Linked DNA regions of Homo sapiens. The protein of the gene in region 1 purifies or fractionates together with the protein of each later gene. This does not show direct contact. Each region holds a gene or a part of one and is shown on either strand. Other genes may lie near its edges.

The links. The genes of interacting proteins can lie anywhere in the genome.
Region 2: the proteins of TMEM182 (region 1) and CEP78 purify together in Homo sapiens (affinity purification with mass spectrometry; one large-scale study listed by BioGRID and IntAct). This does not show direct contact.

Annotation. Positions count from the first base shown.
Region 1 is NC_000002.12:102,760,655-102,764,830, reverse strand, and holds the start of TMEM182 (transmembrane protein 182 isoform a precursor), read right to left. Parts: upstream 2,801-4,176; 5' UTR 2,614-2,800; coding exon 2,482-2,613; intron 2,245-2,481; coding exon 2,145-2,244; intron 503-2,144; coding exon 404-502; intron 1-403. UniProt on the Homo sapiens protein: Negatively regulates myogenesis and skeletal muscle regeneration via its association with ITGB1. Modulates ITGB1 activation by decreasing ITGB1-LAMB1 interaction and inhibiting ITGB1-mediated intracellular signaling during myogenesis.
Region 2 is NC_000009.12:78,246,075-78,249,574, forward strand, and holds part of CEP78 (centrosomal protein of 78 kDa), read left to right. Parts: intron 1-594; coding exon 595-708; intron 709-2,216; coding exon 2,217-2,281; intron 2,282-2,687; coding exon 2,688-2,799; intron 2,800-3,500. UniProt on the Homo sapiens protein: Centriole wall protein that localizes to mature centrioles and regulates centriole and cilia biogenesis. Involved in centrosome duplication: required for efficient PLK4 centrosomal localization and PLK4-induced overduplication of centrioles.

The DNA.
Region 1 (4,176 bases):
ATATTTATCTGTGATATTCTCATGTGTAATGATGACATAAAGTTTTAGAAGTATGATGTATATTACAATATTCTCAACTGTAGGACTCGTTTTAGGTCTGTTAAAACCTTAAGAAGCGGTTCTTCTTAATAAATATTACTATCTTCATATGGGAAAACACATTTAAAAATACTTTTATAGGCAGCTAGTAAATTACAATGACTTTACTTTTAGATCAAAGTTATGTTCTTTAAAATTATAAATGGCACATTAAAAATAACATTTTTTAATCTAACAGATATCAAAAATATTGAAATTACAGGTCTTAAATTATTTTTTTAATTGCTCACAACAATTTTGATCTGGGCATCCTTCAGAAAGATAAGACCCTTTTAGAAGTAGGCTGAGGACAGAGGGTACTTACTAACTGCAGAGTCATAGGAGGTCGAGTTGTGCTCGCCTCTCATGAAGGGGTACGGAGACAGGTAAGCATGTGTGCAGTTCTTGGACGGTGGCTGATTGGCTAGGAAGAACAGCAAAACAATGGCACTTGTTATTGAAAAGCTCAGTCATGACTCATCCTTAATGGAACAGAAATACAGAGCACAAGGGTTACACAAGCAAAACAAAACTACTGGTTCCATCAGCAAATTCAGCGAATTGTTGTGAGGAGGAAGGCCTTCTAGGAAACTCATATCAAGATGCACATGAGACGAAGGTGGATTCATCCAGAACATCTAGCTACATGACATAATTCAATGGAATAAATGCAAATGCCCTTTATATCACCTTACGATTTAAGGTACCACATTTCATCTTTTTTCACATACTCTCCAGTACCCAACAGTGTCTAGCACACAGTAGGGAATAAAAAATAATTGTTTTAAAAATCTAATAAACTTAAGTTTAACCTTGATTAGTTCAAATTAATAAAAAAATTCTTCTATATCCATTTTATTTTAGGGAAGAATGCAAATGATAAGTTATACAATAATTCAAATAAATTTTTAATATTTGAAAACATCACAAGAAGGCACTTTTATGTTGTCTGAGAACTTAAAATTTTTATATGTACACTTTAAGGTGGACTGAAATATTGAAATATTCTTTCTTTCTCCAAGTCTTTGGCAAAATCTTCCTCTTGCACAGTCTGACTTACTTCCCTTTACTAAAGTCTAAACCATTTCCACTGGCAAGTTGTATGCTTATTCTCCTGCCCCCAAATCCACTGTAAGATAGTCTATCAGGTACTTGCCTCAAAACGCTGCTTCATCACTACTTTGTTCCTTATATATGCCAACTTATCACCAGCTTGCTTAAGTCTTCAGGGACCTCCTATTTTTATTAAATATTCCATAATCCTGACTATTATGTAAATACCATACTTTGATTTTTGATAAGAAGACTAATAATTTCAATTCTCAATAAGCTTTAGGCTAATAAACAGCCCTTTCATTGTTGAATACAATGAAATAAGCGCTAGCTATTTTCAATAAATTGATTTTCAAAGATTAATTCAATATAAAGAATAGAGTTGAACAAATGCATTATAGTTTTTAAAAGTTATGCTACCTTAAAAAAGAACTTTAAAGTTTCAATGAGAACACAAACATCAAAAGCAAGGCACTTCTTGATAGTGCCAACAAACTTGGTTAAAGCTCAAATAATATAAGCTTTCATCTGCCATGGCTGGTAATTAAGTTCCATGATTTTTTTAAAAAAAATATACTGTTAACTTTGAAGTTATGAATATAAAATAATACATCTCTATTTATGGATTTTTACATTTGAGATTTCAAGGGCTGATAGCAAAAAAATCTTATTTATTTGCAACATAGTATTCACACACTTGAAAAAATGCTATAGACAATACCTGTCCTGTTTGTTAGAGTTAGTGTATTCTAAACAGGAGCAGTGAAACAATGGATAATTCAGTTTTGCCATAAATATTCAGACTCCTGTTTTATGCTAAAAGATAAAATAATTATTCCTATAGCCATGTCTACTTACTGAAAAGGAATCTCTACATGATGAACCTTTTAAAGACATCTAATTGAGATTTTGTAACTCACAATCCAGTCCGCTAGAAGTGACATATACTATGTAAGAAACTGTTCATTTTTATTTTACAGACAAGAGGGAAAATAAAGCTAAATTGTACTTACTGTACCAGAACTTCCAAATATTGGAGTCATTCTCTTCCACAATCCCATTAAACCAACACCTCCAGAAGAACCCTTCATGGTGAAAAGTGACGTTCTCTATCTGCACAGAACAAAATGAAGTAACTTGCCATCAATACAAGAAATATAATCAAAATCATTACAGCCAGTAAATTTTTAAGGACATGTATTTTATCCCAAATAATGAAGCTCAGTAGCTTTCTACATATCTCTTCCATGAAGAAATAGACACTCCACTACTATTCTCTGATTTCAAGAGCATACATAAGGGTATCTTCATAACTACCATGTGCATCACTATTTTGAAGAAGAGACTCACATTCTTTTCACCTGAACATCTCCCCACTTCAGTTGCAAGAAGCCAATAATCCGATCCAAAAGCCACCAAAAAGAGTAACACCCCCAAAGCACCAAAGAGAGCTCCAAAGAAGATAGCGATATTTAGTCTCATTTTCAATTCACTGGTTTCCTTTTAAATAAAATATGAAATTTTAAAATGGTAAGACACCTAGTTTCTCAGAAACAACAGCAAAAAAAAAAAAAAAAGAATAATATTTTTGAGTTGGCAGAATCTTCTTGAGAAGGCTGTCCTAGCTCATGTTTTGGTGGCTTCTCGCTCACGCCCCACCGGCAGATTCATATTCCCTTTGCTCGCCCCTGGAGGAACTCCAGCCCAGCAGCTGAGAATTGCTGGCTATTTTAAGATAGTGATTGAGGAGCTGTCTTTCTCCCATGGGGATCAAAAAATAGCTGACCTTCTCTTGACTATAGAGAGAAGTATCAGGAACTGGCTCAGATTATCATTATTGCTGTTGGGTAATCCACAGAAGTAGAAAGAAGATGGAATGGTTATGAAGTCATTGAAAGCATTGGCCCCAAATCTTGTGTCTGAACAAGCTCCTCTTAGTCTAGAATGCCCATTACAATCCCAAAGACACTTAAGACTCTCTTTGAAGATATATAAATCACAGATATAAAGAACCACAAAGACCGATCTTGAACACAATTGAAGTTGTAATTAACTTAATTCCTTTTGGACTTTTTTTGTGGTAGAAAATACGTTTTTGGTCAAATAGTCTAACATAACACAGTACAGTTCACGTTTATAATCTAAACATTCAGAGGTATACTTAAAAGGTCAAGAATGTTCATGGTAACATAATTGTTGAAAGTATAAAGAAGAGCTTTTATGCAGCATACACTAGTGACATAAAAACAACACTTTCTGCAGCAGCCTCATGAGTCTTATACAAGTTATTCCAAATAATCATCCCCAAAGTGGACTGATGAAAAAAGTCTCAAAAATGTATTATTTCCTGAATTAAGATGAAATAACCTGATCGACTTCTTTTTCCTTCATTTTAAAATATCTCACTTCCTCAAAATATGAATCATACTTAATACTCACACAGACCACCTAATAGCAATGAATCTACACTTTCTTCAAGGCTTAACTCTTTACAGCTTATTTGTTTGTTTTGTTTTTCTGTCTGATATGCCAGAGGAGAGTATTTTTCTAAGTATTTGTGTGCATTTAAAATCTTGCACCGTTCCTTTGGTTATTGTTTTTATATTCTCAACAATAATCTGGAATACTTAATCTTCCAAGGGGGCATCTCAACTCTACCAGCTTTCTTCACGCCTTCTTTTTTGTGGCATGGGATAGATCCTTACAATGGATTCTGTGAGAACAAAAAGATTCTCAATAAAGATGAAGGGCCCTGTTAGGATGTAGCTATATGCAATCAGAGGTATTCAAAAGCTATGAATAAGGCCAGGCGCGGTGGCTCACACCTGTAATCCCAGCACTTTGGGAGGCCGAGGCGGGTGGAGACCAGGAGCCTAGCCAACATGGTGAAACCCCATGTCTACTAAAAATACAAAAAATTAGCTGGGCATGGTGGCGGGCCCCTGTAATCCCAGCTACTCAGGAGGCTGAGACAGAAGAAACGCTTGAACCCGGGAGGTTGAGGTTGCAGTGAGCCGAGATCGTGCCATTGCACTCCAGCCTGGG
Region 2 (3,500 bases), on another chromosome or scaffold:
GTAGAGTTATTTTTCAACTCTGTAATTGTAAAATATGTTGGGTAATTTATTGGTACTAAAGGGAGGGTAATCATGACACATCTATGAAGAGGGTTTCTTTTTTGTATTATGTGTGTGCATATGGTTTTCTATTTTTATTTTTTCAATACCCAAGATTAAAAACTGGCCATGAGTAGTCTTGGGCAGGAGTCTTCCAGGCATGAATAAGTGGGAGTTGTCTGTATGTTAAATCTGTATAGAATTGGCCGGGCGAGGTGGCTCACGCCTGTAATCCCAGCACTTTGGGAGGCCGAGGTGGGCAGATCACAAGGTCAGGAGATCCAGACCATCCTGGCTAACACGGTGAAACCCTGTCTCTACTAAAAATACAAAAAAATTAGCCATGCGTGGTGGCGGGCGCCTGTAGTCCCAGCTACTCAGGTGGCTGAGGCAGGAGAATGGCGTGAACCTGGGAGGCAGAGCTTGCAGTGAGCGGAGATAGTGCCACTGCACTCCAGCCTGGGTGACAGAGTGAGACTCCGTCTCAAAAAAACAAACAAACAAACAAAAAATCTGTATAGAATTAGCAAGTGACCCTTTGTCTTTCATCGAAAGCTCTTGACCTGCAACAGTGCGGCCTCACCAATGAAGGAGCAAAGGCTTTGCTAGAGGCCCTTGAAACCAATACAACTCTGGTCGTTCTGGATATAAGAAAAAATCCACTCATTGGTATGTCGCTACAATATTTTTTATTGACTAACAAATAGCAAAAGAAAAAGAATTTCTCATGTATTGACAGTTTTGAAAACTTAATGTGTTTCCTTCCCTAATCTTACACTTTTGTAATCTTGCACTTTCTTATGTTTTTAGTAGATAATTTACTGATGAAAAGAGTTGTACTTAAATTGCTCTTGGCTGCTACTCTGAATAGGAGTGAACCTAGATAATAAATCTGCTTCCACCAAGTGCATTATTTTCTTCTTGTGGAACTTCTGAATTCTTGGAAATAGTATTTCATTCATTTGTTGATTTGACAAGTAATTTTTGAATACTTCTATCTGCTAGATACTGGTTTAAGCACTAAACATACAGCAGTAAACCAGCTAGACAAATTCTTGGTCTCATAGAGCTTACATTCTAGTTGGGGAGTTATACGTAATGTAATTTAGATAGTAGGAAGTGCAAAAATACCGTAAGGTAAGAAGACAGATGGGGGCAGGTGGGACTATATTAGATAGGTTTTTTAGGGGACAGCTTCACTGAAAAAGGGACATTTGAACAGAGACCTGATTAGGAGGGGAACAAGCCGTGGAAGATGCAGATAAAGTACCTTCCAGGATGAGGAAGCAATGAATATGTAGTTACATAGGTGGCAGGGTGGATGGAGTATTTAAGGAAAAGCAAGAAGGCCAATATGGTTGGGGCACTGAGTGATGAAGAGACTGGTATGCTACAAAGTCAGACAACTAGCCAGGGGCCTGATCTTGTAAGGTTTGAAGGTCACGGTAAGGACTTAGATAATTCTAAATGAGCTGAAAACCATGGGAGGATTTTGAGCTGGTAAGGGTTATATTCCAAGTAGTAATTCAATCAGATGACTTGGTGTGGAGAATACACTTGTAGGGGGCTATAAAAGGGAAAGAGGGAGGCCAGTTAGGAGACTCACACTGGTTCAAGTTAGAGATGGCTATGGCTTCACTTAGGGTGGAAGGTTGGAGGTGGTAAAAAGTGGTTGAAACAAGGTGTAGCTAACAAGACTTGTGGGGTATAAAGGAAATAGTAATTTTTTTAAAAAGTCCTAGGTGATTTTGCATACAACTGGGTGGTACTGTTTATAGAGAAAAGGAGGCTGTGGAGAAGAGCAGCTTTGGGGGCGCATCATGACTTTGATTTGGGTATATTAGGTGCCTTTTAAGCATCTAAGTATCTGGACAGTGTTTAGGCTTTTGATTTCCTATTTAGAGGTATCTAAAGCTACTTTAGTTCCAAAGTGTTTACATTTGATCTTTGCTGCTGCCAAAATAGTAGCCATCAGGGACAATATGTGTGTAGGAATACTTTGTTTTTGAGGAAGAAGTTAGAATACTCAAAGGGGGAAAAGGTATTTAATTACATTATGTGGAATTCATATTCAATTTCATGGGAAAAAGCAATAATTGGTTGGCTTTTGTTTTTAAATGGGAATAGCCACTCATTGGGAAATAATTACTATAATTTCAATTTTTATTTTACTTTAGATCATTCTATGATGAAAGCAGTTATCAAAAAAGTCCTCCAGAATGGAAGGAGTGCCAAATCAGAGGTATATCATGTTTTATTTCTCCAGAAAGAATTCTTATTTAATTGCTTTTCTTCTGGGATCTCACTGTACTGCCCAGCCTGGCCTCAAACTTCTGAGCTCCAGTGATCTTCCCCCTTCCCAGCTTCCTAGGTAGCTAGGACTGTAGGTATATATCGTTGTGCCCAGCTTTTCGTCTGTTTTTAATAAAATGAAACTATTAAGGCACTTTTCTGCCATCTTAAATTTACAGTCAAATCAAATGTCTTTTCTGTTTTTGTAAATACCGTATGATTCTTTAATTTTGGGTCCCAGAACTGCTGATTGCAAACCTTTTATTAACATAGAGTATCTTAACAATTTCCATTTAAGATGTAGCCCTCATAAATGATCTGTAACTGAAATATAGTGTTTATTCTGTCTCTTTTAGTACCAGTGGATAACTTCTCCATCAGTGAAGGAACCATCCAAAACTGCTAAACAGAAAAGGAGAACTATAATTCTAGGAAGTGGTCACAAAGGAAAAGCTACTATTAGAATTGGTAACCTTTTCTGTCTTGGCTTTTTAATGCTACTAGTGTTCTAGTGTGTTAAAATTAAAATCTCTTCTCATTGTATGATATTGACAGTAACAACCAATATTGACTCCGTGCATATTATGAGGTCTGTAATTGTTCTGATAAGATTATGAGAATTTATGGAATGTAGAAATAGTAAATGAATCATTAGGAAAGGGATGCTAGTGCTTCCATTTAAAAAATTACCCTTATTTGTTTTTCATACAATATTCATCATTTTGGATATGTTTTCTGATTCATGATTACTTTTGATACTTTGCAATTGAAATTTGGGATGCACTTTGATGACAGTTTTAGCAGTGCTTTTGTATGATTTTGTTGTTAATGAAGAATTATCCTTTCATACGATAGAAAACAAAATTTCTTCCCAGTTCCATTTTTTTTCCCTTGTTTCCTCCTCCTTCCTTGCAAATTCTTACCCAAAGTTGTTGAATTAGGTAGCACCTTGCTTCTTTCAATGATGAAATAACCTTAAAATATATGTAATCCTTATAAAACAATACTGCAGGTAAGTTTATTACCCAGAGATGGAACATTTTAGACAAACATTCCCTAAATGTTTGCTATTTATGGTTTATTTAATCTGCCAAATAATAGTCTAGAATTTTGAAATTGTCTATAATTTTGTGACCAAGAATAATGAAAAAAGACTTTATAAACTGTTT